Linked DNA regions of Homo sapiens: regions 2, 3 and 4 are each linked to region 1. The links come from fine-mapping of genetic effects on gene expression. A gene starts in region 1. Each other region holds a variant in brackets. All regions are shown on one strand. Distances are from middle to middle.

Evidence for each region.
Region 2: its variant is fine-mapped to the expression of IDS in whole blood (TOPMed, PIP above 0.99).
Region 3: its variant is fine-mapped to the expression of IDS in testis (GTEx, PIP 0.92).
Region 4: its variant is fine-mapped to the expression of IDS in whole blood (TOPMed, PIP above 0.99).

What each region holds. Positions count from the first base shown.
Region 1 is chrX:149,501,484-149,509,672 of GRCh38, forward strand. IDS (iduronate 2-sulfatase) reads right to left here and starts at 3,823. Exons shown (of 9, transcript NM_000202.8): 1 at 3,552-3,823; 2 at 2,674-2,810; 3 at 1,829-2,006. The coding sequence starts at 3,654. RefSeq lists enhancers at 2,402-2,950, 3,074-3,575, 3,568-3,727 and a silencer at 2,912-3,011.
Region 2 is chrX:150,015,327-150,023,515 of GRCh38, forward strand. EOLA2-DT (EOLA2 divergent transcript) reads left to right here. Exons shown (of 12, transcript NR_027456.1): 10 at 625-814; 11 at 1,011-1,174; 12 at 1,285-1,461. Among named protein-coding and RNA genes, the nearest start is that of EOLA2-DT, 81 kb to the left of the region's middle. The variant C/T (reference allele first, on the strand shown) is at 3,772.
Region 3 is chrX:149,523,272-149,531,460 of GRCh38, forward strand. It overlaps EOLA1-DT (EOLA1 divergent transcript), which reads right to left. Exons shown (of 10, transcript NR_027455.5): 8 at 6,242-6,322; 9 at 6,096-6,157; 10 at 4,320-5,087. It also overlaps the pseudogene IDSP1. Among named protein-coding and RNA genes, the nearest start is that of EOLA1-DT, 12 kb to the right of the region's middle. The variant G/T (reference allele first, on the strand shown) is at 3,741.
Region 4 is chrX:149,477,626-149,485,814 of GRCh38, forward strand. It overlaps IDS (iduronate 2-sulfatase), which reads right to left. Exons shown (of 9, transcript NM_000202.8): 9 at 1-5,593. The coding sequence ends at 5,121. Among named protein-coding and RNA genes, the nearest start is that of IDS, 24 kb to the right of the region's middle. The variant T/C (reference allele first, on the strand shown) is at 3,994.

The DNA of each region.
Region 1 (8,189 bases):
TGCTCATTCATGAAGCAGAAACCCACCCTTAAGCTTAGTAGTTTATAGTTTATTTGTGAAGACAGTATAACAGCACTGGAAACCAAGGAAGGACTTCCAGCTTTCAAAAGCATCGAAGTGCCAAGTGGGGGATCCTCCAAGCACAGAGGTTATTGTGAGTCAGGTGAGGACTGGCAGGGAGGACTTCTAGGAGCCAGTGAGGCCTGTGAGGGATCTGAAGGGAAGTGCTGCCTATAGTGGTTAGCTGGGAGTGGAGGGGATCACAGGCAGAACCTCGTGAGAAAGCATCAGCAGCAGTCACACAGTGGGACTCCCATAGGGAGTACCAGAAGAGACAGGAATGGAGAGAAAGAGGGCAGCGGGTGGAGGGCCTATGAAGACAGCAAGCACTGTGGAAAGAGCACACAGGAAGCCAACAACCACAGGTCCAAATCCTGATGCTGCCTCTTAGCATCCTTGCAACCTCTGGCAAGCTACTTGACTCCCATGAGCCTTCATGTCTTCCTTGGGAAATGATGATGATGATAAAAACCCACCTTGCTTGCTGTTGGGAGGATTAAAGGAGTGGCCAGCATGGTAAACGGTACATACCTGGCACACAGTGGTGGCTACTGTCATCTTGAAGCAGGCCCAATGCTAACAGAAAAAGGTCTTGAGAACAAAGATTCAGCTGAAAAATGTGTTCCCACAAGGGCTGCAGGGAAAGGTTTATTCTCTGAGAAGGACATGGTGCTTAGAGCCTGGTGCCAAAATCCAATCATCAGGAGGGAGGAGGTCAAGCAACATCACTCAGTCCTTGCCTGGTTTCCCCTCCCAAAGCACAATCTCCTCCCTCTGCTGTGTTTCCTCCTCTCTCCAAAATCATCACTTCCCTCCAGCTGCATTTGGGCAAGGGGTATGGTAATGAGAACACCAAACTGCAGAAAGTTCTCCTGACACTGGACTTTTGGCTGTGCAATATGATTCCTGACAGGTTCACCTCTGAAACTGGCCTGACTTAGTAGAGCTGAATGTCACTCTCAACCTGGGCTGGCCAGCTGAGCTCCTGCAGAAGGCTGCCAAGCCTGCCGGTGTAACCACTGAGCAAAGGGAAAGAGACTGAAAACATTCGTCATTCCCAAATGATAAGCATTATTGTCCCTATGGTGCTCTTGTCTTCCAATACTTTTTTCTCCATTTTTTTTCTCAAATACTCATGCATTACTTCTATAAATAAAAAGTTTTAAAGTTTGTTTGCTTTTCACTATCCCCATATTGGCATTAAAGAGAGCCAGTTTATCAGGCAGCATTTGAGGTAAGGAATGTCCGTCTCTGGGACCCTATAGATCCTGGGTACCAGATTACACTCATCTTTCTGACTTAATTTCCAGAGTGGATAGCAGCCCCTACCTAAGCACAGCCCCCTCATTGGGCAATAAGTCAGCAACAGCAATGCTGGCCACACGGGAGGCCCTCAGGTGTCCTCACCCCACCCCTAGGTTTACTGACAGGTACCCTGCAGGGGAGAGGGTGGGGCCCTGAGCTGGACTCCACCCAACACTGCCACCTCCCCAGCCTGTGTCCTCCCTACCACCCGAGGAGCTGAAAGACCCAACAGCACACCCTCAGTGGTTTCTGAAAGGAAGCAAAGCTCTTTCTACCCTTTTTCACTTTGGGTGAAAACGTGGCTGGGTTGACAAGTCAGTTTTTTAGAAAGGAAGCACTGACTAGCGAGGGACTCGCCCAGCCAGAAGAGGGCTCTGCAAAGACAGCCCCATCCCCAGGATGGGAATGCTGGATTCAGACACCACAAACCAAGAGAACCCAGACTCTGGACATGGAGCAGTACCAGGGTGAAAGACTTTTCCCACCGACATGGTCACATAGCCATTCTCCTTGAAGTACTGGGGGATGGTGGAGAAGTTTCCAGCGTGCACCCTCCAGTAGGAGTTGAAGTCGTACAGGCGGGTGGTGTCAGGTCTCCTGCCAGTGAGGAAAGAAACGCGGCTCGGGGCGCACACTGCTTGCTGTTAGGGAGCAGAAGCAGAGGTAAGCATCGCCACAGCAAAACATGTCTGCCATCTCTTAGGTAACCAAGCAACCGCCCTCCCGAGGCTCCTAGCAAACAGCTTGGTAGCTGAGTCATGCAGAGCTCAAACCAGACACTGGGATTTGGGTGTCACCTAGGCAACAGACTGCTTCCGGGAGAGAAAAGGGAAGCAATCAGCCCCTGAAACCAGCAGATGCTTATCTCCTCCTACGCAATGGCCTCCCCAGGCACACAGAGCGGCCAGTGTTGCTGGGGGCAGAGCCATGAGGGGGTTCAGGGAGCAGGGCCACCCTGGCTAGCTCTCACCTGAGGCCCAGCCTGCAGACCTGTGGGTGCCCTTCTGCAGCACCCCTTCCTTCTGAGCACCAGGCAAGCGCCCGTTCTGGGAGAAAGCTGGCCAGGGCTGCCATGAACACATCAGGGCCAGGGCGCACCTTGCACCCAAGGAGAAGGCCACCCTTGAAGGTCAAGCTTTCCCATGAGTGGAAAACCAGATTTTCTCCACTACCATTTTCCAGACTATGCTTCCCTCTAACAAGATGTCCCGCACAATCTGTGCCATCTGACAATAGCTGAAGCTCCCCGCCCCCAACCCTCAGTGCACGAAGCAGCACACACCCACAGCTAGAGGTTCCCAGACATACCTGCGCAAAGGCATTCTGGAAGAGGAGGCTGTGGGATGCCAGTTGGTCAATATTTGGGGACCTCACCAGCTTATCCCCATAACAGCCCAGGGAGGGGCGCAGGTCATCCACGATGATGAGAAGAACGTTCAGAGCATCTACACAGGAGGGAGGGGCTTTGGTGAGGTAACCTGCACTGACACTGAACCCTCCCTCATGGTAGGTGCTAGGTTACTAAGAGGCCCAAGGCTGGACCCTGCACCTTAACAGCCTAGCCAGGGAGGGCGCTGTGCCTCAGCAAGGGTGGGAGTGGGGCTCGAGGAGGAAGCCTGAGTCCTGGGTGGCAGGGTTAGGCTTTGGTCATGGCCTCCAACCTGGGTGAGGAAGCGAGATAGTGAGTGAAAGATGGTGGAAAGGAAAGATGAATTTAGGAAAAAAAGAGAATGATGTATGCAGGAAAGGACAGATGGTTGGATGGAGGAAGATAAGGAGGAAAAGATGAATAGCTGAAGGGAAGAAAGGATGGAGAGAAGGAGGGGAGAAGAGAGAGAAATATGAATGGATAGAAGGTAAAAGGGACGGATGGACCAATGGAGGGAGGAAAGGAGGGGGAAAGATGGATGGATAGAGATGGGAAAGATGGGGGGAAAGAGGAAGGGAAGCACGGAGGGATAGGAGATGGATGGATGAATAGATGGAAAGAGGGAAGGGAGGGATGAAGGGACGGTAGGAAGGAGTGAAAAATGGAGGGAGGGAACGAATGATGGATGAAAGAAGGAATGGTAGGAGAGAGGAAGGGTAAAAAGAATGGATATAAACAAAGAAGGAAGGAAAGAAGGAAGGAGGAAGGAAGGGAGGGAGGAAGGGAGAAGAGATGGCAGGGAGGGCGTGGGCGGCACCTGTGGTCGAGTTGGCCTGCGTTTCGGATCCGAGGGCGACGCAGACGGAGCTCAGAACCAGACCCAGCCAGAGAAGGCCTCGGCCGGTCCGGGGTGGCGGCATTTCGGCTTCGACGCGGCCGCTTCAGAGCGGCGGGGACAGGCTGCAGCAGGTGGCGCAGTTAGCAGCCGCCGCCGCAGCCACAGAGACCTCCTCGTCGGGAACCCATGAAGACTGCGCAACACAGCCGCCGCCCGGGCCCGCAGGCCCGGGCGCTGGCCGCAGCGCGAGTGCGTCCGTGCGACTCTTCCCTGCGTCCCTCCCCTCCGGGGCGGGTTCTAGAGGTGCGCGTCATCCTGCAGCAATAGGCGTGGCCGAGAGACAGGCGCAGAGCGGGGGCGGGCCAGTTGCCTTGCAAGCTTCGCAGACCCAGCGGCCCGCAGGCCCCTAGGTGTAGAACTGCTAGGGGTATAGCGATTCAGCCACTGCCCTTAACAACTAGCAGTTACCCGTCTTTTTGCCTTTGCTTGTGCTATGCCTTTCACCTGGAAGCCCTGCCCTTCCTTCTTTTTATAAAAGACACACTTCTTGTAAGCCAGCCTCAATGCCATTCTCCTTCCATGAGGCCTTTTGAGAAAGTCCCTTCCTCCATCTAAAGGGACTCCCTTTCCTATTCATTTCTTCAACTAATTCTTATTAAGTATCGCAAATATGTATACCAGGCGCTGTTGGTGGCACTGGGGCTCTATGTCCCTGCTTTGGTGGAGCTTAAAACAATAAAAAAATATAGAGAGTGTCGGTGGGCATACCCGGTCTGGAGAAAAATAAAGCGTGGGTGCGGGGCATGCTTGTTATTTTCTATGGGGTGGCCAGGCAGGGCCTCACTAGTGAAGTGGCATTTGAACAAAATTTTGAAGCAAGTGAGGGAGCAAGCCGCATTGAGGTCTGCAAGAAGGGTGCGCCAAACAGAGAGAGCAGCAATTGTGGGGAGATGGAATCCTAGCCCTACACTGTACTGTACTGAATACTATTATACCGTCCTAATACTGCAAACACAGTTTGATTTTCAACTTTGAGAATCAATCTATAACAAAGCCCAGATGACTTAATTATGACTAAACAACAATGGACAATGGGAAGGTACAAATACAGCTGTGATGGTGCTGTGGTGCACTGCTCAGATCTCCCTTCAACACCAAAAATTTTATTTCCCTAGCTGGCTTGAGAGCTGTTAGCTGTCGTTAGCCCTCATCAGAAATTGTCTTAGAAAAAGATAGGTACCTCAGCCAAGGTCACCCCTGTTCTCAGGAAGCCCACATCAGTGATTCAACTTGAAGGTACAAAGGTGCAGCCCCTTACCCCAACTTGGGACATCTCTGAAAGGCCATTTCAGCTTCAGAGCTCCCTGTGGGGTTAACTGAAGCCTTTTTTGAGACTGCCCACTTTCTCTGTCTGTTGAATTTTGATTTCTTCCCTCCCCTCCCCTTCTACAGGTGTTGATCCTAAGAGTACTCCCTAAGAAACTTCCTGCACATTACTCTACATCTTAGTCAGCTTCCTTGGGAACCTGGCCTGCAGCAACAGTTGACAAAAAGCTGGGAGGAGGAAGGGAGATGGCAGGAAATGTAGGCACATTAATTTAGGGTTAGCAATTTAGGATTGTCTCCTTTGCCCCAGCCTATCGCAAAAAAATAATAATAATAATAATAATAAATCAATAGTCGCTGTCCCCAGTTCATAGAAAGAGAAATACAGATTTAGGGATATTACTTAAAGATACAAAAGTAAACAATAGAAAACTTAAAAATGGCAATAAATCTATATAGTAAAAGGAGAAGGGAAAATGGCAGGGAGAGATGAAACAAAATTTGTCATGAGTTGATAACCAATGAAGTTCATTGATGAACACCTGGGGTTTATTATACTATTTTCTGTAATCTTGTATAGGTTTGATCAATTTCCAAAATCCAAGGTTAAAAATATGTACATAAAAAGAGGAATGGATAAGTGATCTCATCTATCATAGGAAGAAGTCAGCAATGTCTAAAGTTGAAAACATTAGAAAGTTGATATAGAAATAGCATAGTATTTAGAAAGACAGGGACAATCTACTAGAAGAAATGAAAGTAGAAACATTTAAAATGAGAACAGAAGAGGGAAGGTGCAGGGCAGAGGGCCTTTGCTTTGTATGGTATGTCTTTTGGTCCTTTTTGACTTAGGTGTTAGTGTCCTCCCCCCAAAAATTGTATGTTGGAGTCCTAACACCCAGTACCTCAGAATGTGATCTTATTTGGAAACAGGGTCTTTAACAGGGTAATCAAGTTAAAAGGAGGTAATTGGGTTGGGCCCTAATCCAATATGACTGGGGTCCTTATCAAAAGAAAAAATTTGGACACAGACACAAACACATAGAGAGAAGACATCCATGTGAAGACAATGGATTGAAGTGATGCATCTACAAGCCAGTGGATGCCAATGATTGCCAGCAAACCACAAGAAGCTAGGAAGAGGCAAGGAAGCATTCTTCTTCTATAGGTTTCAGGGGGTGCATGGTCCTGCTGGCACCTTGATTTAAGACTTCTGGCCTCCAAAACTGTAAGACAATGCATTTCTGTTGTTCTAAGCCATGTAATTTGTAGTACTTTGTTACAGCAGCCCTAGAAAACTAACACTACCTATAAACAATTCAAAATTTAACAAGATTGATTGTCTCAGCTGGGATAGAAAATTATATATGCCACTTGGCACAATTGTGTGTGTTTGTTTTTGTTGTTTGTTTGCTCTGGTGTAAGCTCGAGGTTTTGCTGGGGCTCATAGCAGCAGAAGGACAAGAGTGGGAGCAAGTGGAGAGAGCCAGTAAGAGAGCAGTTCAGGTGGCTGACAGTGGTTAAGAAGACTGGTGGACTGGGGACAAACAAAGATCTAGGAGATGGGTGAGGATATAGAGAGGCAGCAAGGGTGTGAGAGTACTGGTTTTAGTCCCAGAATGAGACCCTGAAATTTAAGATTTCTGAGGTAAAACAGATCCTGGTGATTTAAAGGTCAAGGATGTGGCCTTGAAGCTGGGAGGCTGAGGTGGGGGGGAAGAGATTGCTAGAGGTTAGAGATGAGGAAGAAGTCAAGGGTCTGTGAGTGGCACAGGCTGCTGATGAATACACTGCAGTCCCCCAGAATGATGACAGGACACAGGGTACCAAGGTCACCTGTGAGCCTGGTACCTGAGTCTTCAGTGAATGAGGGATAAGGGCCAATCAATGCTATGTAACAAATGACCACAAGCTTAGTGGCTGTAAACACTACTCATTTGTCACCTCCTACTTTCTGTGGGTCAGAAATCCAGGCACAGCTAAGCTGGGTCTTAGGTTCAGGGTCTCAAAAGGCTGCAGTGAAGGACTACATTCTCACTTAAAGCTCGGGATTGTGGATAGCACAATCCACAGGTGCTCAAGTCCTTTATATAAGATGGTGCAGTGTTTACATATAACATACATACACATCCTCCCGTATACTTTACATTACCTCTAGATTACTTATAATCCCTAATACAATGTAAGTGCCATGTAAATAGTTATTATACTGCATTATTTATGAAATAATGACAAGGGAAAAAAGTCTGTACATGTTCACTGCAGAGACAACCACCCATCTTTTTCAAATTCAACAGGTGGTTGAATCCACAGATGTGGAACACATGGATAAGGAGGCTGATTGTAGTACATTCTACCCATACACAAGGGGTCACATACACTAGGAGGCAGGAAACTTGGGGGCCATCTAGAATGGCATCTACCACAAAAGAGCCCTATCTTGAGTCTCAACTCCAACAGATAACAGAAAATTTAATCTAGTCAATTCCACATTTTCCCAGTTACTTCGGGATTGTCTTACTAATTACCAATTATTGTTATCAAGCAATTTAGGATTGTCTCCTTTGCCCCAGCCTATCACCTAAATTCTGTGAGACTCTTAAATTCGGAGAGAGAGAGCAAGAGAGAAGAGAATCTGCTTGTTGTCAATGGCAACCTGTCCATGCCAGCATCCACTCCCAATGTACAATCCCATCCAGCGCTCAGAGATGGCATACCTTCATGCTGTCTTCCAATGTGGTGTCGTCATTCTAACCTGGTTCCTAGCTGCACAGTCCATGCCATTTTCTATGTGACATTTTTTGGAGACGTGCTCTCCCTCTCGCTCTCTCTCTCCCCCTCTCCCTCTCCCTCTCTCCCTCTTTCTCTTTCCCTCTTTCTCTCTCCCTCCCTCTCTTACCTCCTTGGAGGCACGGGAAAATTCAACTGCTTTCCCATGCCACTTTAGTGTCACAGGAAGCTCAGGGGACTGCTCCAGACACTTCTGCAGCTAAGATATGTGGATTTGGTGTGAGAGGAGTTCTAGGACTCTGGACCTTCTAGGGTACCATACAGCAAAGGGAGTCCCCTTGCTCTTGGACTTCTACCCTACCCCCGCCTTTGAGCCTAACTCCAGGAGGAGGGGACAATGCACACTGGCAAATTGGTATATAGTCCCACACAATGGTAGGATGAGGATTCAGGGGAGAATTCAAGATTTGTCTCTCATTCCAGATCCAGGGATCCTTGGATGGGCACCCCTCAAGGGCAGGCTCTGCCCTGTCCATTTACTACTGTATCCCAGGGGCTAGT
Region 2 (8,189 bases), 510 kb after region 1:
TGCAGTACAGGTGTATTGTAGGTAGGCTGTAGGAGGACCATAGCTACCTCTAAATCTTTACAGAAGATTTTGAATGTGGCTTTTGTTGCATAGAAAATAAATAAAATAAAATAAATCTCTACAGAAGACTGGCAAGAGATTGGTGCATATTTAATAGCAAACAGTGGGATGCTTTGAAAGGGATGGATAACATAGAACATTGAACAGCAAGAGCTTTAGTGGGGTTTAGGTTTTAGTAGTTGTCCAGCCAAGACTCTGCCTGTTACTGAAGCTAGGGATATGTGGAGTGACCAATTTACATCAGTCATAGTAGAGAAGTAATTGCTTTTATCTGACAAAAGCAGTCTGGACCCAGTCAACAACATGCTGATGCTACAGTCCCTATTCTTGATGTTTTATTGGAAAGTGGTAAGACTTCTTTTTCTCTCTGAGCTGGTACCACCAATTTGCAGTGGTATGTTCTAGAAGCAAATCATATTTCAGAGCTCTTTGGTTGTGTAATTTTTTTCAATAGGCATGATGAGTATTCTGGAAGCTGTATCATGGTGCCTTTTGCTTGGCTGTGTGTCATTACTATAATGCATAGGTTTTTTACTTGTTTGTGTGATTGTTTTTATTCCAAAGACTGCCATCCAGGGCCATGCAGCAAACAAGCAACAGGGAAATATCCCACTATGCAATCCTATTTTGAGATGATATTTAGGATGAGAGAACATGCATTAGTTACCTACCAGCTTGACAGGAATGGATTTCCAAATCTGACACACCATAGCCTGAATTCTCACCAGTTTGCTCCTGGAAAGGCCCGCTCATGGTAAGCTCCTTAGAGTTTGTTAGTAGTGGGGAAGCCTTGAGTTTCAGGAGAACGTGTTTGGATGGCATTTTAAGAAGCCATTCCATTTTTGGTAGAGTAGAAAAAGTCTGCATCTGAGTCTGTAGTACAGTCTGTTCTCTGGATGAACACAATGTCTCTCTCACATTTTTCTGATATTTATTCTGCAAATCAGCAGCATGAGCCCCTGCCACTCTTCTAAATAAGCTTCCAGGCATTACCTGCATGCTGTGTTCCTGTGGTGGGATGGCAGTAATCTCTGCTAAGATAAACGGGAGCTTCTGTGGATAAAGCATAAACGCAGTGAAGTGTGTGTGGCTGGAAGATTTAATGCCTCTACAGGTAATTTTTTTAGAGGGGGATCTGGCATTTGATCAAATCCAGAGTCATTATGTAAATTTAATCACCTTGCAACACACTAGTAATTTTATTATCTCCTTTTCATTTGACAGTGCTTAGATACAAGTTGAGCTTGGAATTCCAGAGGTAGAGCACTGCTGATTGGAGACATATTAAGTAAAATGTACTGTGGAAATGAGATAAAACCTTTATTCTTGCTAATGATTGTCATTGTATGTATTCAGGTGTCCAACAAAGGATTTTAGAATAAAGTGTGCCTTTAAAGTTTCCCACCTTCTTAAAGCTCCCAATGAATTGCAAAGGGCCTGTTTGGAATGGACTGTATTAAATCTACTTCAAATGAAAACCTTTACACTGAGTGAAATATGGTTCAACAATTCTTAACACAAGGCCTTTACACTTGTGTAGCCCATTTTGGTTTGGCCTATCTTGTCACTAGAATGCTGTCTGAGCTTGGATTATTTATGCCCTAAGATTTACTTAAAATTGAAGGGAGTATTTCCATTCATCAACACTAGTTTTGATAGATGCTTAAAAGGTGCAGTGAGGTTGATGATCCTGAATACACAAATTATTGATCACCACATCAAGTTGGATTTCCCTAAAGATGTATGGCTTTCTGACCTTGTGATTTACACTAATGATTATGTCTTAATAAAAGTAATAAAGCTAAATACTTTATACGTGATCTAAGGAGTGAGATTAGAAAGGAAGCAAGAGGAGAGACATACTGTGTTGAACTGACCTTGCTAAGGCAGAAGAAATGGCATTTTATGGTGTTTTTTTCTTTCCTTCACTTCTCTGTTTTACTTCTTCCGCTTTTTATCTCTTAATTTGAAAGAAACTCTTGGGAATATCTCTTCTCCTGCAGACAAAGACATCATGAGCTCCCCCATCCATACCCTAGAACATGTAGGCCCTTGGTCAACCATAGAGTCTTTCCTTTAATCAGGTGATATCTCTCCTTTTGTACCTTGCAGGCACGGAAGCCAATGACTTGGGCAAATGCCCCTAATTCAGGATCAACTCAGATGACCAGGTTTCCCCTACCTAGAGTGCTACTTATTGCAGTGAAAACTTTTCTTCTTTCCAAAAACCTTTAATTAAACGTTTAATAACTCCCTGACTCATAATATGGCTTCATAATGGGACATCAAAATGGTATAATCTAGGATTAAGATTTAAGTGCCTTACTATCTAGTTTCCCGTTGAGCTGAGTATCTGTTCTCTGTTTACCACTCATGCCTCAATTTTCTTATTCTAAAATGGAAGTAATGATCACTACCTACCTCCAAGGGTTGATACAGGATTCAGTGAGGCATTTGATGTGAAAGTATCCAACACTCAGTTTGGCATAGAATATATGTTCAGTGAAGGCAAGTGGAATTTGAGTGATCTTGTGAGTGCTAAGAGGTTATAATCCAGGGTTAGTATGCAACCCTAATAGTGGGGCTACCATGCACAGTCACAGTGAGGGTCTGAGTCAAATGAGGATAACTGGGCTCTGGCTTTGGTGTCTCCTTTTGTGGGTTGCAGCTGGTAAAATAAGTCCTCTTTTGTCACAACATCATACAAAAGTAGGTTCACACATGTACACTCACACACACGTGGTTTGGGTGAGAGAGTATATCAAATAATCCCACAGTAGAGAGATGATGAGATTGCTCTTAAGGGATGTCCTAATTTGGATAAAACTTGTGTGACTTTAGGAAATGGACTTACCCTCTCTCTCTCAGTTTCTTTCTGTCTCTCTCTCTCTCGTCTATCCATTCATCCAACCATCTGTCCATTCATCCAATAAGCACTTATGAAGTATACCCATCACTATATTTCTATCACCATTACTGAGTAGCGATGATAGAAAGACTGATACTTTTCCTTTCCTTAAAGAGCTTATACTCTTGTTGGAGAGAGGGACAAGCAAACAGTTATAAAACACTCTTAATCCATTTGGGCTGCTATAACAACATACCTTAGACTGGAAAATTTTATAAATATCATAAATTTATCACCAACAGTTCTTGAGGCTTGAAAGTCCAAAAATTGAGGTGCCAGCAGGTTTAGTTGTCTAGTGAAGGCTCTCTCCTTTATAGATGGTCCCTTCTTGCTGCATATTCACACGGTGAAAAGGGCAAGAGGCTAATAAACTCTCTGAGCACTCTTTATAAGAGCACTAATCCCATTCATGAGGATCCACCCTCATGACCTAATCACCTCCTAAAAGTCCCATCTCTTAATATTATTACTTTGGGGATTAGGTATCAACATGAATTTGGGAGTGACACAAACATTCAGACCATAGCAAATACTATTTCAAAGTGACAAAAGCATGCAGAGGGTATCATGGGAATAAAGAGAAGGTTCCTTTCCCAGCCTGGAGTGGAAATGAATGGTCAGAGAAGACTTCAGGAAGAGGTGATGCTTGGGCTAAGTCCTAAAGGGTAAAGAGGTGTTTACATAGTAAAAAGTGGCGGGGGCGGGTGGAAGTGTGTGTTTAAGCTGAGGGCAAACCCTCAGGAATTGCTCTGCAGTTCCTATACTGTCCAGTACTGGTAAGAGTTCTGATCAGATTTGATAGC[C/T]ATACATGAAATGTGGACTCAGTGTTTGTTTGTAGCCCACCAGATGTGTTGAGAACACTGTGGATAAGTGCATATTTTAGTGCTTCTGTAAAGCCCTAGAAAGTAAATATTTTAGGCTTTGAAGGCCATGAGGTCTCTTTTGCAACTATGCAACTATGCAGTGCTATCTCATCACAGATTTAATTTGCATTTTTCTAATAGTTAACAATGTTGAAAGTATCATGTGCTTATTTGCTATCTACACATCTATGTTGAAATGTAATGTTGAAATGTTTGATGTATTTTCCCCATTTTCTAAGTGGACTTTTTTCTTACTACTGAGTTTTGAGAGTTCTTTATTATATTCTAGATAAAAGGCCTTTGTAAGATATGTGATTTGAAAATATTTTCTTCTAGTCTGTAGCTAGTCTTTTCATTCTCTTAACAGTGTATTTCACTGAACAAAACTTTTTAATTTTGATAAAATCCAATTTATCAACTTCTGTTTTTATGGATCATGCTTTTGATGTCATATCCAAGTACTCTTCAAGTAACTCAAGGTCAGGAAAATTTTCTCCTATTTTTTTCTAAGCATTTTATTGTTTTATGTTATATGTTTAGATCTATAATCCACCTTGAGTAAATTTTTGTTTAAGGTGTAAGGTTAGGTTAATGTTATTTTTTTTCATACTGTTATACAATGATTTCAGCACCATTTGTTGAAAAAACATATCATTTCTCCATTGAAATGCTTTTGCATTTTTGTCAACAATGAGTTGGCTATGTTTATGTGAGCCAATTTTTAGACTCTGTTTTCTGTTTTATTGATCTGTGTGTCCTTCCCTTTGACAATACCACACCGTCTTGATTACTGTGTATATACAGTAGGTCTTAAAATCAGTTAATGTTATTTCTACAGTTTTATTCTTTTTCTTTAAAATTGTTTTAGCTCTTTTAGTTCCTTTGCTTTTTATATAAATTCTACATTCCACTTATCTGTAAATACAAAAAGTTCTATGGGATATTGATTAGAATTGCATTAAATTATGCTGTTTCTTTCAGTCCATAAGCATGGTATAACTCTATTTAAATCTTCTTTGATTTCTTTCATCAGGGTTTTATGGTTCTCAGGATGCAGAGTCTGTACATATTTTGTTACACTTATACCTAAGTATTTAAATTTGTTTTGAGCTATTATAAATTTTAAATGTATACATATATTTAAATTTTGGTTTTCAGTGGTGCATTGCTGGTATATAGAAATATGCTTGATTTTTGTGTGTTGACTTGTATTCCATCACCTTTATAGTACTCACTTATTTTTAGGAGTTTTTATGTAGACTTCTTGAGATTTTCTGTGTAGATAGTCATGCTGTTTACAAACAGAGTTTTCTTTCTTTTTTTCTGATATCTGTGCCTTTTATTGATTGATTTTTGCCTTATTGCATTGGCTAAGACTTCCATAATGATGTGGAATAGGTGGTAAGAGTGGATGTCTTACATTGCTACCAGTCTTCAGGAGAAAACATTTAGATTTTCACCATTAAGTATGATGTTATCTGTAGGTTTTTTGGAGATGTTCAAGTTGAGAAAAGTTTACTTCTATTTCTAGTTTGCTGAGATTTATTTTTAATAATTAATGGATGTTGGCTTTTGTCAAGTGCTTTTTCTATATCAATTGGTACAATTATGTGGCCTTTTTAGACTTAGTATGATCAGTTATATCAATTGAATTATTCTATTATTGAAGCAACCTTACAATCTTGTGATAAACTCCACTTGATTGTGGTGTCAGAAAGGGCCTCTGATAAATCTCCAGATATGTACTCAGTTTATTTCTCTTTGCCCTGTAATGTAAATGCAGTTATACTGGTATCATAAGGGTACATTTCGGTACTAGGGAAAGGTCAGAGAGAGAATGCTGAGAGGTGGAAGGCATTCTGCTTGAATGAGGAGCCAAGGAAGGCAATGGAAGCTAGGGGAGAGAATGTAAGAACTGATCCGTGAGCAAGCCAAAAGTGAGCCAATCCATCAGGCTACAACCATTGAGTGAGTGCCTGCTATGTGCCGAGCAGTTGACACAGGCTAAAAGGTTCTAAAAAGAGTCAAGATTGGATAACAAAGAAAGAAGGCCCTTGAGGAACTTGATCATGCTGGGGGCTAGAAGTGAGAGGGTTTGTATATTCTAGTTCTGGAATTTGGCTGATGAGCACTGGACCCAGGACCCAGGTGGCTGCCTGGAGCAGCCTGAGGTCCTTTCTTGGCCTGCTGGTAGGTAAAATAAATGAGAGGAGAAGAGTCTGGGAAAGGTGGCCTCTGTGGCTTATCTGGCACCTGCAATTTGATTAGATGTATATAACCTGTGTCTTAAAATCCCTCGCATTGGGCATGGCAGGCCAACATGCAACCAGCAGGTACTGAGATAGGACCATGGGCTCTGAGAGGGAGAGATAATTAGAGATTTTCTTCAAAACTGAGGACTTGACCTTCCTGCTTACTTACTGTGATCACTATAATGCCACTGCCTTAGGCAATGATACCCAGTTTGATCTCCTCTCAGATACTGTTAGGTCAGTGTCTCCATCCATTATTTTCTGTGGAAGCTCTGGCAGCCTGAGAGTTTGAGCAAAACCAACCTGACCACCGATTTTTTAGTATATAGCTTGGTATTGTCAACCATGATTGCACATTAGGATTGCCAGAGACAGAACCAGCTTAATAGACATGTGACCAGTGCATTTACACAGGACCCCATGCTCAGAAGGGAGGGCCATGCTGGGAGATTAATGTTCTATTATTATTATTATTATTATTATTATTATTATACTTTAAGTTTTAGGGTACATGTGCCCATTGTGCAGGTTAGTTACATATGTATACATGTGCCAAGCTGGTGCGCTGCACCCACTAACTCGTCATCTAGCATTAGGTATATCTCCCAATGCTATCCCTCCCCCCTCCCCCCACCCCACAACAACCACAATGAGATACCATCTCACACCGGTTAGAATGGCAATCATTAAAAAGTCAGGAAACAACAGGTGCTGGAGAGGATGTGGAGAAATAGGAACACTTTTACACTGTTGCTGGGACTGTAAACTAGTTCAACCATTGTGGAAGTCAGTGTGGCGATTCCTCAGGGATCTAGAACTAGAAATACCATTTGACCCAGCCATCCCATTGCTGGGTATATACCCAAAGGACTATAAATCATGCTGCTATAAAGACACATGCACACGTATGTTTATTGTGGCATTATTCACAATAGCAAAGACTTGGAACCAACCCAAATGTCCAACAATGATAGACTGGATTAAGAAAATGTGGCACATATACACCATGGAATACTATGCAGCCATAAAAAATGATGAGTTCATGTCCTTTGTAGGGACATGGATGAAATTGGAAATCATCATTCTCAGTAAACTATCGCAAGAACAAAAAACCAAACACCGCATATTCTCACTCATAGGTGGGAATTGAACAATGAGAACACATGGACACAGGAAGGGGAACATCACACTCTGGGGACTGTTGAGATTAATGTTCTGTGGTTTCCATTTGAAACTTAATGATTTTTATCTTTTTTATCTTCAAACCTGTGTTTTGTAAGTGAAGTGTAATGAGACAATGAAGCATGTACTGGGGGCTTGAAATCTTGATTCACATATGGATCTACCTCCTACAAACTCCCCACATCTCCAGGATGGGTTTTTGGCCACCACTCCCTTGATTTCTGGTGCCCGTGGCCTTACCTGGGCCCCCCTTTCTCATCCTTGTTCATCCATCCCCAGCAGGAGCCTGGATGTTGGGAGAGTCAGGATCAGATGCATGCACCTTGCAGCCCCTCTAGGGAGGGCATGACATCGATCATCTCTGCTCCAGTTTCACAGCACCAGGCACATTCAGTGGGAAACACAGTGGCAGCAAGCCTCTTGTCTATCCCTGATTTAGGTACCTAAGTGTACCCTGGTAAAGAGGTTGTAATATCCTTGGGGGATGTCTGTCTTCTGTGGGAGGGGATGGTGGGCCCATGGGAAGAGAGATGCTAAACCTCAATTTCCTTACCTTCTGATAAGGCACAGCATGTCAGTCTGATGGCTGGTGAAAGGGACCCAGTAGTTGTCAGGCCCAATCACACACCCAAGACACAAGTCATTGGGTGGAGCTCCTGGGTGCCTGCAAGGGTCTACCCTCAGCCCATGAATATCCCCATGCCCAAGAGAGTATCGTTTGGGCCTGCTTCATGTCTGGAGAGACCCTCTCTTTCTCCTTTCAACCTTCCTGAATCTGACTTGCATTAGTCTCTTCTAGCCAGCTCAAGGCACCTTCCAGAGATGAAGTATGAAATACAAATTGTACAATGTTGGTGATTCTGCATAGGAGTTAAATGCTCTGATATTTTAATTTAAGATATCATTGTGTCGTACAATATAAAG
Region 3 (8,189 bases), 22 kb after region 1:
TAAGCCCACGAAGATTCAGAGACCTTCCATATCAATGAAGTATTTAAGGGGCTACTGGTCAGGGGCATGCTAGGACCAACCCTCCAAAGTCAGAGGCAAATGATTGTATCTCACACCTCCTACAACTAAGAAGGAAGCACAATGCCATGTAGGCCTCTTTGGGTCTGGAAGCAGGGGACCAAGGGGTGAAATGACCCCACTTATTATCTCTCCTAGTGATCCACATGGGAATTTGTGCTTCCTGTCCCCACAATACAGTCACCACTAGCCAAATTCATCTATTTAAATTTAAATTAAGATAAAATTAGTTGTTATTTTATCTGAATTTTAGATAATTAAAATTCAGTTCTTCAGACACACCAGGTACATTTCAAGTACTCAGTAGGCACATGCAGCTAGTGGCTACCTTATTGAACAGTGGATCCTGGCTATTCAAATGGAAATGCTTCCACCAGTAGACACAGTAGGAGCCCCACTGAATTACGAGCCATGGCTGATAACTGAATTACAAGTCATGGGAACCTTGGGTTCATTCCTCCTGCTATGGCTGTGGGACTAAGCAGGTGTAAAGAAGAGTAGCCACTCTGTCAGGGGTATTGGCTCTGATCATCAGGAGGAGGCAGGGTTGTTCTTACACACTGTGAACAGAGAAGGATATATTTGGCACCCAGGTGATCCATTTGAATGTCTCCTAATAATTCCCTGCCCAATTTTTATGGTAAATGGACACATGCAATTTCCACAGTCTGAGAAGGGCACGGGGACCATGGGCTCAGAAACAATCCTCAGGGATAAAGGTCTGTTACTCGACCAGCCAGGTCACTGAGAACGGCAGACATGGTGGCTGAGACTGAGGGTACTCTAGAATGGATAGTAGATGAAGAAGACCATGAGCATCAGTTGTGGCTTCAAAGCCAGCTGCAGTCATGCAGGCCATACACCGTCCCACTACCCTGCCTCATGTTCACCTCCCTAGGAAAAGGGCCAAGCCAAACCCTGGAGAAGTTATTCCCAAATGAGGGGAGCATCCTGTGTGAAGCAAGCCCATCTGAGGCCTGCAAGGCATGGGCTGTAGTCAATGCTGTGGTCGTTCCACAGCCCAGCCTAATGGTGGAGGTCATCATTCCACTGCCTGCCAAAGGTGTTGCTTGATGATGGCACATAACTAAGTCTCTCTCCAAATATCAGTCAAGGGGTCAATGAAGGGTGGAGAGTACCAACACCTGGACTCCAGCCTCTACTTGCAACATCTCTATAGAATCTTCCCAACCATAGAGCTCCCTCAGGGACTGACTGAGACGTCTGATTCAACTGTCATAAAACAACTCCACTTTCCTCCCAATTCTACTTCCCTCACTCTATTACAGGTGGTTTCTTTTTTTTTCTTTTTTTTTCTTTTTGAAATGGAGTTTCACTCTTGTTGCCCAGGCTGGAGTGCAATGGCGCAGTCTCGGCTCACCACAACCTCCACCTCCCGGGTTCAAGCGGTTCTCCTGCCTCAGCCTCTTGAGTAGCTGGGATTACAGGCATGCACCACCACACCCAGCTAATTTTGTATTTTTAGTAGAGATGGGGTTTCTCCATGTTGATCAGGCTGGCCTCGAACTCCTGATCTCAAGTGATCCACCTGCCTCAGCCTCCCAAAGTGCTGGGATTACAGGCATGAGCCACTGTGGCTGGCTACAGGTGTTATTTTCCAAAGCACATGTCCTATCCTTTCAAGTTGCAGGGATGAACTAGTGAAGGCCCCAAACATTGACCAACTGGCATCCCACAGCCTCCTCTTCCAGAATGCCTTTGCGCAGGTATGTCTGGGAACCTCTAGCTGTGGGTGTGTGCTGCTTCGTGCACTGAGGGTTGGGGGCGGGGAGCTTCAGCTACTGTCAGATGGCACAGATTGTGCGGGACATCTTGTTAGAGGGAAGCATAGTCTGGAAAATGGTAGTGGAGAAAATCTGGTTTTCCACTCATGGGAAAGCTTGACCTTCAAGGGTGGCCTTCTCCTTGGGTGCAAGGTGCGCCCTGGCCCTGATGTGTTCATGGCAGCCCTGGCCAGCTTTCTCCCAGAACGGGCGCTTGCCTGGTGCTCAGAAGGAAGGGGTGCTGCAGAAGGGCACCCACAGGTCTGCAGACTGGGCCTCAGGTGAGAGCTAGCCAGGGTGGCTCTGCTCCCTGGACCCCCTCATGGCTCTGCCCCCAGCAACACTGGCCGCTCTGTGTGCCTGGGGAGGCCATTGCGTAGGAGGAGATAAGCAACTGCTGGTTTCAGGGGCTGATTGCTTCCCTTTTCTCTCCCGGAAGCAGTCTGTTGCCTAGGTGACACCCAAATCCCAGTGTCTGGTTTGAGCTCTGCATGACTCAGCTACCAAGCTGTTTGCTAGGGGCCTCGGGAGGGCGGTTGCTTGGTTACCTAAGAGATGGCAGACATGTTTTGCTGTGGCGATGCTTACCTCTGCTTCTGCTCCCTAACAGCAAGCAGTGTGCGCCCCGAGCCGCGTTTCTTTCCTCACTGGCAGGAGACCTGACACCACCCGCCTGTACGACTTCAACTCCTACTGGAGGGTGCACGCTGGAAACTTCTCCACCATCCCCCAGTACTTCAAGGAGAATGGCTATGTGACCATGTCGGTGGGAAAAGTCTTTCACCCTGGTACTGCTCCACGTCCAGAGTCTGGGTTCTCTTGGTTTGTGGTGTCTGAATCCAGCATTCCCATCCTGGGGATGGGGCTGTCTTTGCAGAGCCCTCTTCTGGCTGGGCGAGTCCTTCGCTAGTCAGTGCTTCCTTTCTAAAAAACCGACTTGTCAACCCAGCCACATGTTTTCACCCAAAGTGAAAAAGGGTAGAAAGAACTTTGCTTCCTTTCAGAAACCACTGAGGGTGTGCTGTTGGGTCCTTCAGCTCCTCGGGTGGTAGGGAGGACACAGGCTGGGGAGGTGGCAGTGTTGGGTGGAGTCCAGCTCAGGGCCCCACCCTCTCCCCTGCAGGGTACCTGTCAGTAAACCTAGGGGTGGGGTGAGGACACCTGAGGGCCTCCCGTGTGGCCAGCATTGCTGTTGCTGACTTATTGCCCAGTGAGGGGGCTGTGCTTAGGTGGGGGCTGCTATCCACTCTGTGAATTAGGTCAGAAAGATGAGTGTAATCTGGTTTCTGCACCTGGTCTCAGAAGCTCCCAGGTCTGGGAATGGGAAAGCGCACTTCAACAGGTGTCTCAGGTGGTCTGGCCACCTCTCTTTGAGTTCATCCTTCCCTTGGCCTACCTGTGCTGCCACATCCTCATCTTGGGCCTCTGGGGCAGAAGCTAGAAACCTCTGGGCATGGGATTTAACAGGCTGCCTGAGCTGGCTGTCAAGGTCACTGGGCTCTTGTTCCTCCTGATCTCAAGATGGATCCTTGGGGCCCACACAGGCATGCGTTCTCCTTAGCCAGACTTCCCCGTATTTGCTCCTGGCTGCAGCAGCACAGGCTGAGGCCCGGCACCAGATGTTCAATACGATCTTGCAGTCAGGCGGTCCACAGCTATTTCTGTAGCATTTGCCATGTGTCAGACCCTGTGCCAGGCCTGGGGGCCCCCTCTGCCTGGTGCAGGGCAGCTCACAAAAGCTGGCAGAGGCCGAAGGCTGCGTGCCAGTATTCAGAATGCCACAGAGCGCCTGGCTGCTGTACCTTCAGAGCCTCCACAGGCACCCCAGTCAGAGTTCCGGGAGTGGATTCCTGAGGTCGCACTGCCGGGGTCCCTCAC[G/T]TTGCCATCCTGCAGGCTTCTCGATCCTCGACCTTTTAGATTCCCGCCACACTGAATCTAAAAGGGACAATGTGACCTCTAAGCTGGTGGCCTAGGAGCCTGCCGATAACCTACCCATTCATCAGCCCTCGTGGGTCAAGGCTGCCTCGTCCTCCCCGAGAGAGTGGAGAGGTCGAGCAGTGGGGATGCCCCTCAGGCCCCGGGGCTTACTGACTGGGGCGGGTGTCAGGGGGAACTCCCTCTCTTTCTGAGCTTCACTGAGCTATCTGAAAGTCCCCACCATACTCCCCAGTACTGACAGCCAGAGGGAGGAACGGCTCACCAGAATCATTGGGCATCTCTGATGGGCATCAAGTCTGCTTTGATTATTGATGAGTGGGTAAGAGGGTCCTCTCAACTTGGGGTCTCCTTGGGAAAGCACTGTCAACTCAGAACAGGTTTCAGCCCTGTTCTGGAGACCACAGGCCCTGGAAGGCTGGGACATCATTTGCAGCCCCAGCGTCATCTATTAGACGGAGCCAGCAAGGTCTCATGCTGTGCGGTACATTTCAACACTTTCTCAAATTTACCCGTGGCAGCTTTTGGTGTGTTTGGTTATTTTTATAACACTACTCACTGTACAATTTCTGTCATGCACATTTTTTGTATCAAAAAGGGTGCTGTAACTTTAAAAGACTGGGTATTTCCAACTTGGAATATTCAAACCATCTTTTGCAAGGGATGTTTTAAATCAACATGAAGGGTTGTGTTGTTTTTAATCAGGGTTAAGGATCTGGAATCAAAGGTTATGGTTTACTCCATCTATGGCGTATCTTAAAAACTGAGCAAGATGTCCTTGCCTTTTTTGAATTTGATGATTGTGCTGCAGTTCCACAGCTCACTGTTAGGTGGCACATACCCCAAACTGAAAACCTGAGCTTGGAGGAAATGAGTGAAAAGATAGGTAGGTACAGGACAGGGCAGTGGTGACACTACAGCATTCAGGGTTCCCAGCCTGTCAAGAATGAGCATGTCTTAGCAGTGAGGCATTTCCACATCTTCTCAAATCCACCTGTGGCAGTTTTTGGTGTCTTTGGTTATTTTTATAACCCTAAATATTTATATACAATTTATATACATGTACAAAAGGGACATGTACATTATATATTTTGATACAAAATATGCACAAGTACATATTTTGTATCAAAAAAAGGTTCTCAGGAGAATTCCACTTCCATTAAGCTGGAGTAGACATACTTTTCCCTATTCTTCCGACTAAGTGACCTAAAACCCCTTGATAATATACACAAAACAAACATAAGACTCTGAAAGGTGGAGTGAAGGCAGATCAGACGGGGACCTTGTGACCTGAGGAACAATGGAGTTAATTAGTTCTCTGGTGTGTGTCTCTCTCTCTTTCTTTCTTTCCCTCTCCTCTCCTTTCCCATTCCTCCCTTCCCCTCTCTTTTTCTCTTTCTTTTCCTCTCTTTCCCCTTCCCTCTCTTCCTCTCTCTCTCCCTCTCCTCTCCTTTCCCCTTCCTCCCTTCCTCTCTCTCCCTCTCTCCCTCTCCTCCTCTCTTTCCCTCTCCTCCTCTCTTTCCCTCTCCTCTCCCCTTCCTCCCTTCCTCTCTCTCTCTCTCTCTCCCTCTCCTCCTCTCTCTCTTTCCCTCTCCTCTCCTCTCCTTTCCCCTTCCTCCCTCCCTCTCTCTCTACCCTCTTTCTTTCCCTCTCCTCTCCTTTCCCCTTCCTCCCTTTCTCTCCCGTCCTCTTTCTCCCTCTCTCTTTTCTTTCTTTGCCCATATATACCAGACATGGAGCTGAAGGAGCTGGGATCTAGAAATGTCAACAAACACAGAGGAAAGAAGAAAGAAGGAATGAAGGAAAAGAGGGAGGAAAGGGGGACGGGAAGGGAGGGAGGAAAGAAGGACCAAAGCCAGAGGACCAGGAAAGTTGTGACTTAGCAAGATAGAAAACTTTTAGACAGTGAGCTGCTTTACTCTAGTTAACACCACAGAAATATAGTTTGATCCCCACTTCCACACATGCCAGCAAAGGCCAACTAGGGGGCTCAGTGTAACATGCTTGCTAAGCTGTAACATCCCTCCTGTCTACCTTGGTGCTGTCGGAGGTGGCCAATTAGGGAGCTGGCACTTTCATCCCTGCCAGGCAACAGCAAGTCCCCATCCCCTAAGGTGTCTGTGCAGGTGATATTGGATACAGTGCTGAAAAATATCGAACCCTCCCAGCCACAAAGGTATGAGTACAGCCCCAGATCAGATCCAAAAAGTCCACTCCTGCCCAGCAGAAACAAGGAGCCCCTCACCCATTTCAGGGATCAATGGAGGCCATGTGGCGAAGGTAGACTACTGCACTCACCACGCAGTAATGCAGCGTGTTCCTTCCCTTTCTTCTGCTGGAGTGATGTCAGAGGATGCCAGCTAAAACAAAGTTTAAATAACACCTTCAACCTACTAACATAATATGAAAATCTCTAGATTTCAATCAAAAGTTACACATCATACCCAGAACCAGGAAGATCTCAAATGGAATGACAGGATACAATCAAGAGATGTCAACACTGATGACAAAGATGTTAGAATTATCTGTAAAAAAATTGAAAGCCACCATTATATGCTTCATTAAGCAATTAAGAACGCATTTGAAACAAACTAAAAATAGAAAGTCTCAGCCAAAAAAAAAATAAATAAATAGAAGACATAATGAAGAACCAAATGGAAATTTTAGAACTGAAAAATACCATAACTGAAATTTTAAAAACTCTATAAAGGAATCACTGGCAGAATAGACAGAACAGAGGAAAGAACCAGTGAACTTGAAGACAGAACAGAAATTTCCCATTCTGAAAAATGAATAGAAAATGCATGGGAAAACAAGATGGACAGAGCTTTAGGGACCTGTGGGACTATGAACAATGATCTCACATCTGTGTCATAAGGGTTCCAGGGGAGATGGGAAAAAGTGTGGGGCTGAAAAATCAAAGAAGCAATGGCTGAAAATTTCCCAAATTTGACAAAAGACATAACTCTGCAGACTTCAGAAGCTGAACGAATCCCAAAGAGAATAAATCCAAAGAAATTCCACACTAAAACACTTGAGTTAAACTTCTGAGAACTATTAAATAAAAACAAAAAAAAATTAACTGAGCATGGTAGCTCATATCTGTAGCCCTAGCTACCTGGGAGGCTGAGGTGGGAGGATTGCTTGAGCCCAAAAGTTCAAGGTTACAGTCAGCTATGATTGCAATGCTGCTCTGCAGCCAGGGCAATGAAGGGAGACCCTGTCTTTAAAATAATAATAATAATGATAATCATTAAAAAAAAAAAAAAATCTTGGAAGCAATGCGAGAGAAATGACACCTTACCAAACCATGGATACCAAAAGGAAGTGGCACAACTTTTTTCAAGGGCTTACAGAAAATAGCTTTCACCTGGGTGCAGCGGCTCACACCTGTAATCCCAGCACTTTGGGAGGCCAAGGCAGGCGGATCACCTGAGGTGAGGAGTTCAAGACCAGACTGACCAACATGGTGAAACCCTGTCTCTACTAAAAATACAAAAATTAGCCATGCGTGGTGGCATGCATGCACCTGTAATCCCAGCTACTTGGGAGGCTGAGGCAGGAGAATTGCTTGAACTCAGGAGGCAAAGGTTGCAGTGAGCAGAGATTGCCCCATTGCACTACAGCCTGGGCCACAGAGTGAGACTCTGTCTCAAAAAAAAAAAAAAAACTTTCAACTCAGAATCTTACATCCTGTGAAAGCATCCCTCCAAAATGACATTCCATGGCCACATAGGTTTGAAAACCATGTTCTAGACTAACCAGTTCATTTTCTAGATAGCACAACTGAGATTATTCAAAGAACATACAGGATTTTTCCAAGATCACATTGCAGTCCCTTGAACACTGTTGGAAATCTCTGAAATTTGCAAAGCTGAGAGACCAAAAAAAAAAAAAAATCTTTCATCAGTGTTGCTGGAATAATCTCCAACCTGTAAATGTAGAAGCAAATCTTGAGAACCTGAGTCCCAGAAAGAGACAACACAAGGTGCAAGGGTATGTCCCAGCAACAGCCCTGTGACATGAGTGGCATTTGTACCTCCTGGTTTATAGGAGTGGAGGAGACACAGAGAGACGAGTAACCAACAAGGTCACACAGGAAGACAAAGAGCTAACATTCAAACCCAGGTCTGCTAGACACCAAAGCTCAGGCTCTGGGCCTCATTGTTACATACCTCATGGCCATTCTCAGCCTTTCTGTGTGTCTCTATGCATTGCTCCAGCATATGAACTACAAGGACCCAGAGGATGCAAACAATGGGCTCCTATGTCAATGCCTGGGCTGACCCATACAGGCCATTTGTAAAGAAAATGCAAACAGTGTTGCCATGTTTTCATGGTACCAAGCATTAGGAATTTGGGTTTGTTTTAACATCCATTGTTCTATATCTG
Region 4 (8,189 bases), 24 kb before region 1:
CCCTTGAGCGTGGGCTCCCCACAACAGACTGTGTTTTATCAGACACTCAGAGGAAAGTGGCATCTGTCCCATCAGGTGAGTTAGTGGACAGGGACACCAACGGGAGCTTTCAGTAACATGTGGAAAGGCAAGACCCAAGAGCAGTGAGGGCTCTTGGCCATTATGGCCAAACGATTGGTGATGTGAAGGCAACAACTGACAGTCCTCTCTGCTTGAAGTTCTCATGTGCAGAAGAGAGAAACTGTCCTGAAGTACCAGGGGACCACTGAGTGCAGTGGGGCTGATGGCAGGTTCCACCACAACGGGCTATGCCTAAGGCCCCAAGGGACACCCTGGGTTCTACTTTAATCCCAGATCCCAGGCCAGAATTCAAGAGATTCCTCTGAAGAGCTATAACCTGCAGGATGGACTTGGGAAAGGAAAAGGGGCTGAGCCTCTATTTGGGAGTTTATACCCAAAGCGCTTCACACAGTAAGGTATGGACAGCTTGGGAACCTGACAGGCGGCAAAAGATTGGGCAGAGAGGGAAGAGTCAGTTTCCCTCTGTAGCTAGGGTGAGGCTGCTCCAGAGTCACTTGGTTACCTCCCAGCACAAACCCCAACATCTTAAGTGATTAAAGATTAATGTAGGTTGGGTGTATACCCAAAACAATTAAGAGCAGGGACTCGAACAGATATTTGTACATCCTTGTTGACAGCAACATTATTGCAATGGCCAAAAGGTAGAAATGACCCAAGTGGTCACTGGTGGATGAATGGATAAGCGGAACGTGGTACATACATTTCAGTCCAAAAAAAAAAATTAATGAAGCAGGGCTGTGCAGCCATTACAGCTGTTAATCAAGAACTGTCAATGACATAAAAAACCAAGCTAACATTGTGTTAGATCAAAAAAACAAGATATAGATTATATGTGGTAGTCTGCATGTATGTAAAGCTAAATATGTCCATATCTGCATATATGTCTTTAGGCAGGTAAAAGAATGAAAGGAAATATACAAATGTCAGCAGTGGGTATGTCTCAAATGCTGGGCTTCTTTTCATCTCCAGTTTTCACATGTTCCAGATTTTATGCAATGAGCATATATTACTCTGATAATGGGGTGGAGAGACACAGTAAGCATAAAACCAAACCCCAAACAATGCAAAGGAAAATGAATATTTATTCAATGTCCAGATTGGGGAGGGGTCTGTGTGTTTAACAGGAAAAGATACAGAAAAAAACCTATCACACAGGAAAAGATAAATATGTTTGATTATTTTAAAAGGTGAAACCCATAACCAAAATTTAAAGGCAAATTCACACAAGTGGAAATACAGATGCCCAACTATCGTACAAAGAGAACCATGATCAAGGTCACTAACAAGCAAAGAATTTTAAGTTTTTTTTGTTTTTTGTTGTTTTTTATTTGAGACGGAGTCTCGCTCTGTCACCCAGGCTGGAGTGCAGTGGCGCGATCTTGGCTCACTGCAACCTCCGCCTCCTGGGTTCAAGCAATTCTCTGCCTCAGCCTCCCAAGTAGCTGGGATTACAGGCGCCCGCCACCACGCCCGGCTAATTTTTGTATTTTTAGTAGAGACGGGATTTCACCATCTTGGCCAGGCTGGTTTTGAACTCCTGACCTCGTGATCCACCCGCCTCAGCCTCCCAAAGTGCTGGGATTACAGGCGTGAGCCACCGCGCCCGGCAAGAATTCAAAGTTAAAACAGGTTACCACTTTCACCTATTACCATCAGGTTGCTTATTTTTGTTTTATGTTTTTTATTTGTATGCATGTTTACTTTATGTTTCAGTTTACTACCCCCTAAGGCAGCAAGAGAGCAGGAAGATAAGCAAAATAGAGATGTTTTTGACAACTTGGCACTGAGAGACTATCCTAAGGGAATAATCTGAAATACATAAAAACATTTTATTCACAAAATTGGTCATCACAGCATTATTTACAATACTGAAAATCTGGAAATAGCCTAAATTTCTAACAATTGAAAGAAGGTTAAGTAAATTATAAGACTACACAATAAAATATATTACCAGCAATATATCTTTGTGAAAATCTATAATAACCACACATAATACTTAGTAAAAAAGAACATAAATTACATGATAAAGAATATGACCAGAACAATGCAAAAAATTCACACCCCCAAAAAAGACAAGATATTATATGGCAATTTTGTGGTAAAATATTCATGTATTTGTGCTGCATTTCTAATTTTTCCGTAACTGACACATCAGTTTTATAATTAGGAAAAAAATACCTTTTTAAAGTAAAGCGAACACAAGATTCTTTAGCAATGTTCATTCCATCCCACAATAGAGTCTAGAGAGTCACAAAAACCTCAGCCTCCTTCGGGAGGGGGGGAGCTTGGTAGTGAAAAATGGTCATGAATGAATGGGTGAAGAGAGGGATGGGACAACCTAGTAGGAGGGAGGTAGGGATAGGCAAGGGAAAGGTGGGGACCAGTAGTCATACTGGTCAGCCAAGGAAAGGGGCATTGTGGAGTCAGGGAAGACTCTGACTGCTCAACAGAGGTCTGTCTAGACCCAGTAGTAGGCACTGACGGTGTTATCAAAGGACAGGATCAAAGAGAGATTTTAGGAAGACACGTGGATTATTTTAGGGACAGGGGAGGAAAGAGGAGGGGTGGGTAAACTACTTGGAAAGAAAGGGAGAAGGACTGAGAAGATGGCAATGGGAGTGGGGAGGAAGGGGCTGATTGCCTTTGTGACCTCACTACCAAACATACTTTGCTCACCTCCAGATAAGTCTTTGTGGGGCAAATGCAGGATAAAGAAACAGCTCATAAGAGGCACTTGCCAACATCCAACAAATTCAGTTCAAAACCACAGAAAATCTAGGAGTCTCCAAAGAAAATCACAGTCCTGCTGTGTTGCCGAGGCTGGAATACAATGGCACGATCTTCATTCACTGAAACCTCCGTCTCCTGGTTCAAGCGATTCTTGTGCCTTGGCCTCCCAAGAAGCTGGGATTACAGGCATGCACCACCACACCCGGCTAACTTTTGTATTTTTAGTAGAGACGGGGTTTCACCATGTTGGCCAGGCTGGTCTTGAACTCCTAACCTCAAGTGATCCGCCTGCCTGGGCCTCCCAAAGTGCTGGGATTACAGGTGTGAGCCACCGCATCCGACTTCTAACGCACTGGGTTTTAACAAGCCCCTCAAGTAGTTCTGATGCTCCCTCATGTTTGTGAGCCACTGAATGAGGGCCATGCAAAATGTCTAGAATCACTAGTTCTGCTGTCAGCTAAACCACATGAAAGAACCCCTGCTCATGTGAAAGAGAGATTTCTACAAATAAAGTGACGGGAGGACCACTAATAAGTTATGTCCAGCTTAGTGGGGTTGGGGAAAGGTTATATGAAGCAACAAAGATACAGTTTCTCTAAGCCAAGTAAAGGTAAAGAACTGTGGAGCAGGCAATAAAGCCAAATGCACTGAACTATGTCATAAGGAATTTACAGGCTGTATTGTAAAAGCCACAGTGAACATGATGACAGCAACAACGAGGATGAAGAACAGCAAAGAAAAAGCTGAGGGAAACCATCGACCAAAGCAAGCGGAGGCTCAAAAGAGAGACGAGCTTCAGGATCAGGAAATGAACAGGGCCCTTCAGTCACGGAGAAGTCGTTGTTGCCAGAACAGTCAGTCACTTAACTGCTTAGAAGATCACCGTGTTACCATATAACCTCTATTGTAGGCTAATTAATTTTTAAAATCTGTCTAAAATTTACTGATTTTAATATAATATCTTGTCATTTTTGGCAACAATACACTGAAGTAACAATGTAGTTTGCTGTATTTTGTTTCACAAATATTTACCTGGAAACACTGGAGACTTTGTAAAGAGAAAATTACTAAAAATTACTCCTTCACTACAGGACAGTAGATATTTAATATTTATTTAGAAAGCTATTGACACTTCTGATGACTACTGATAACTGAGAAGATTCAACATGTTATAAATATGAG[T/C]TGTAAATATTCCATCCCTTTTGAGATTATATACACTAAGCTTTTTACTACCACTGGCCTTTCTGGATACTTTCATATTTAGAGAATATAGAACTACATTCTGGGAGATTGACAATGACCTAATATTACACTAATGAAAAGTCTTCACAGTCCTCAAAATAATTTAGAATTTAATGTTTTCTTTAATAAGCAATTAAAATGGAATATTTTCTGCCTCCTGAATAAATACATGTCTGTAACCAACCATCCCTAAAGAAGGATACTAATATATTTTGAGTGATTCAATCCACCCATGGATATAGTCACATCTTTAAATGTTTTCCAGTGTGAACAACAGTCTTTTAATAGATGGCCATTGAGTTCAAGGGTCATATTATTTGCTAACAAATTATTATTTGGGCCAGAAAGTATCTGAAAAAAGTTTAACCAAATTTCCTACACATCTCATATCTCTAGTTTATTAAGCATTATTTATTATTTGGTGTAAAAATTCTACATTAATTACTTCATACATATTTTATCTTGAGATTATGAAATCCCATGGTCTTAGAAACAAAAGATAGACTTTAAGACACTGGCTTCTGCTATTTTTTTTTAACTTTAGATTTGAAAAAGAAACATGGATTACATGTTAACATAATATTTTGAATATATAGGGCTCATAAGATATATTATTAAATTATAAACAAAATAATCAGGAACTTAGTGTGGTGCCTAGTTTGATATATGATTACTTTTTGAAATGCACTAAATTCCACAAATAATGAAAGTATTCTTTGTGTATAATGTTATGTTTGGTTATTATGTATGGTCTTCGTATCCAAAGGTATGACATAACTTGAGTTTGTTTGCTTTGTATTTATTCAGTAAATAAGCCGTAACTGTTTTAAAAAGAGGGAAATTAAAAAAAAAACTGGTCCAATTACCAATTATAAATTTTAATAAAGACTAAACGAAAAGGTTTGGCTGTTACATATTCTCAGGCCAAATTGTTGATGCATGTTTGGATTAACTAGCCCTCAGGCTGCTTCCAATATTATGGGTAATCACAAAACGACCAGCTCTAACTCCTCCTCTCACCAGCTGGAAGGGAGCACATCACATTTGCCATCCATGGTTGGCAAAACTCAAGGCATCAACAACTGGAAAAGATCTCCACCTTGGGAATCATTATACATATTGTGATCCTGCAATGGGTCAGAATCCACAAAATACAGTTCCCCTGCATGGATGTCAGAAAAGTTAGCTAGAAATTCATCAGGATTGAAGCCAACCCACACAGTATACCTATAGTCTATGGTGCGTATGGAATAGCCCATGATCTTTATATCTTTTAAACTCGGCTTGTCAGAATTCCACTGAGGGATGTCTGAAGGCCGGGGATACTGGCTATAGGCAATCAGTTCACGGGGATTACCAGGGAGGTACGGATCCTCTTCCAAGTCACGGAATCGAAAATGCTTCAGAAGGTTCTTGCCTTCTCTGCACAGCTCAACGTGAAATGAAGGAACGGGGCAGCGAGGTGGAACCTGCAGTCCTGCAAGTCCAGCCAGCGTGGGAAAAAGAGACACAAGTTCCACAAGGTCCATGGATTGCCTGCCTGAAACAGGAAGCGACAGAGCAGAATGGGTTACATTATAAAAGCCTGCCATGGCCAGGCAGGAGCAGTAAAGGAACCTGTCTGGGCTCCATATGTTTTCTTTTTTTAATTTACAACATTTATCTTTAGCAACAGACGTTTAGAAACACCACCTCGGCACCTCACCCTGCATTAATTACTCATCCAATCAAATAGCAGGATGCAAAATTAGGGCCCCACGAGGCTGTTGGCGCTTTTTAAAACAACCTGAATTTTGGAACCACCGATTTAATAACTGACTCAGACAAGGATCATCAATTAAGGCTACAACCACTAGGTAAAAGAGTCTGTTGAGGAACAGGATATTCTGACTCCCACAGGATCACCCCACACATTACTCCCTTCTGGATGTCTGCATTAGAGTTATCTTTGCATTTTATTACGATCAAATACACACACCATGACATTTACCATCGTAACCACTTTTTAGTATACAGTTCAGTGGAATTAAGTACACTTATACTGTTGTGCCATCATTACCACCATCTATCTCCAGAACTCCTCTTAATTTACACAACTGAAACTCTGTCCCCATTAAGTAACAACTCCCCTTTCTCCATCCTCACCCAGCAACTGGAAACCACCATTCTACTTTCTATGTCTATGAACTGGACTACTCTAGATACCTCATAGGAGTGGGATTATACAGTATTTGTCCTTTTGTGACTGACTTTTTTCACTTAGCATAATGTCCTCAAGGCTCATCCATGATGTAGCATGTGTCAGTTTCCTTCCTTTTTAAGACTGAATAATATTCCATTGCATGGACGGACCACATTTTGTCTGTTCTTCTGTCAATAGACATCTGAATTGCTTCCACTTTCTGGTTACTGTGAATAGTGCTGCTATGAACAGTAATGTACAACCTTTGATTGAATACCTGTTTTCAGCTCTGTGGATATATACCTAGGAGTGGAACTTCTGGGCCATAGAGTAATTCTATGTTTAACTCTGAGGATCCACCAAATTCTTTTCCACAGTGGCTGCACCATTTTACATTCTTACCAGCAATGCACAAGTGTTCCAATTTTTCCATATAATCACTAACACTCTTAACACTTGTTTCATTCTTTTTTTTTAGACGGGGTCTAGCCCTGTCTCCAGGATGGAGTTCAGTGGCGCAATCTCGGCTCAGCTCACTGCAACCTCCGTCTCCCAGGTTCAAGTGATTCTCCTGCCTCAGCCTCCTGAGTAGCTGGGATTACAGGCATGCACCGCCACACCCAGCTAATTTTTGTATTTTTAGTAGAGATGGGGTTTCTCCTTGTTGGCCAGGATGGTCTTGATCTCCTGACCTCGTGATCCGCCCACCTTGGCCTCCCAAAGTGCTGGGATTACTGGCGTGAGCCACCACGCCCAGCCTTTCACAGCTTTTGTTGTTGTTTTTTATTAATAGCCATCCTAGTGGGTATGAAGTAGTATTTCATTGCGGTTCATCCATATTTAAAGTCTAAATACTGTACTTTATATTGATTCCTGTTAAAATTGCAATTGGATTTGCACTACCATTCTGGCCCTTCTGGATCTTTAAGACAGTGCTTTATCATGCTTGATTTCATTTTCTAGACACTTAATTTTTAAGTAAAATAAAAAGAAAACAAGTAAAGAAAGTTGAAAAAGGTACCTTTACAATGGCAAGATCTGGCTGATGCTAGCTAGCTCTTCAACCGAGTGTTCAAACTTACAATACTAGTAACGCTGGCCATGAAGTGCCCCCACCATGTGACACAATGGGAGAATACAACAGCCCATGTAGCACACGTGTCAAAAATGTTACCCTGAATGTAGTCATGTGGAAGCAATCAGATAAATCCAGGCTGTGGGACACTGTTATAGGACAACTGGCCTGGATACTTATAAAAAGATGAGGTCAGGGAGATAATGGGGCCAGAACATGTAAGGCCACTGTGACGACTTTTACTCAGATCAAGAAGGGTACATAAGAGGCTCCTGTGCCGGGCTGTGACATGACTTGACTTGGGTTTTAATGGAATCACTGTGGCTGCTCTGAGGAGGAAAACCTCCAAGGGATCCAGGGCACAAGCAAGGGGACCATTTAGCAAGCTCTTGCAGTACTTCAGCACAAGACAGTGGCAGTCTGGTCCAAGACAGTGGCAGGCGAAGTGGTGGGAAGTGGTACACAGAGTCTGAATGGAGTGTGACAGGCTTTCTCATAGACTGAATATTGCATATGGAGTAAGAGAAGAACAGGGGTTGAGATTATTCCATGATTTTTTGGCATGAGTGACTATTCTCATTTCTTGAGGACAAGAAGAGTGTTGAAGGAAAAGCTGAAGATGAAAGATGTGAAGTCCAGCTTTGGATATGTTAGGCTGGCTAAGTGGGAAAGACTATTGGAAACAAAAGTCTGAAGTTCAGGGAAAAGACACAGCTAGAGATAAAATTTGGAAATAAACTGAAAGGCCGTGCAGTTACATCAATTTCTAAATTGCTGAACACTTCCCAACAAAAGTTTCAGAAAAGATTCTCAACCAATCAGAAGATCTTTCCCAGCAAACAAAGGGCTAAAATCATGCCTTGAAACTGTTTAACCTTT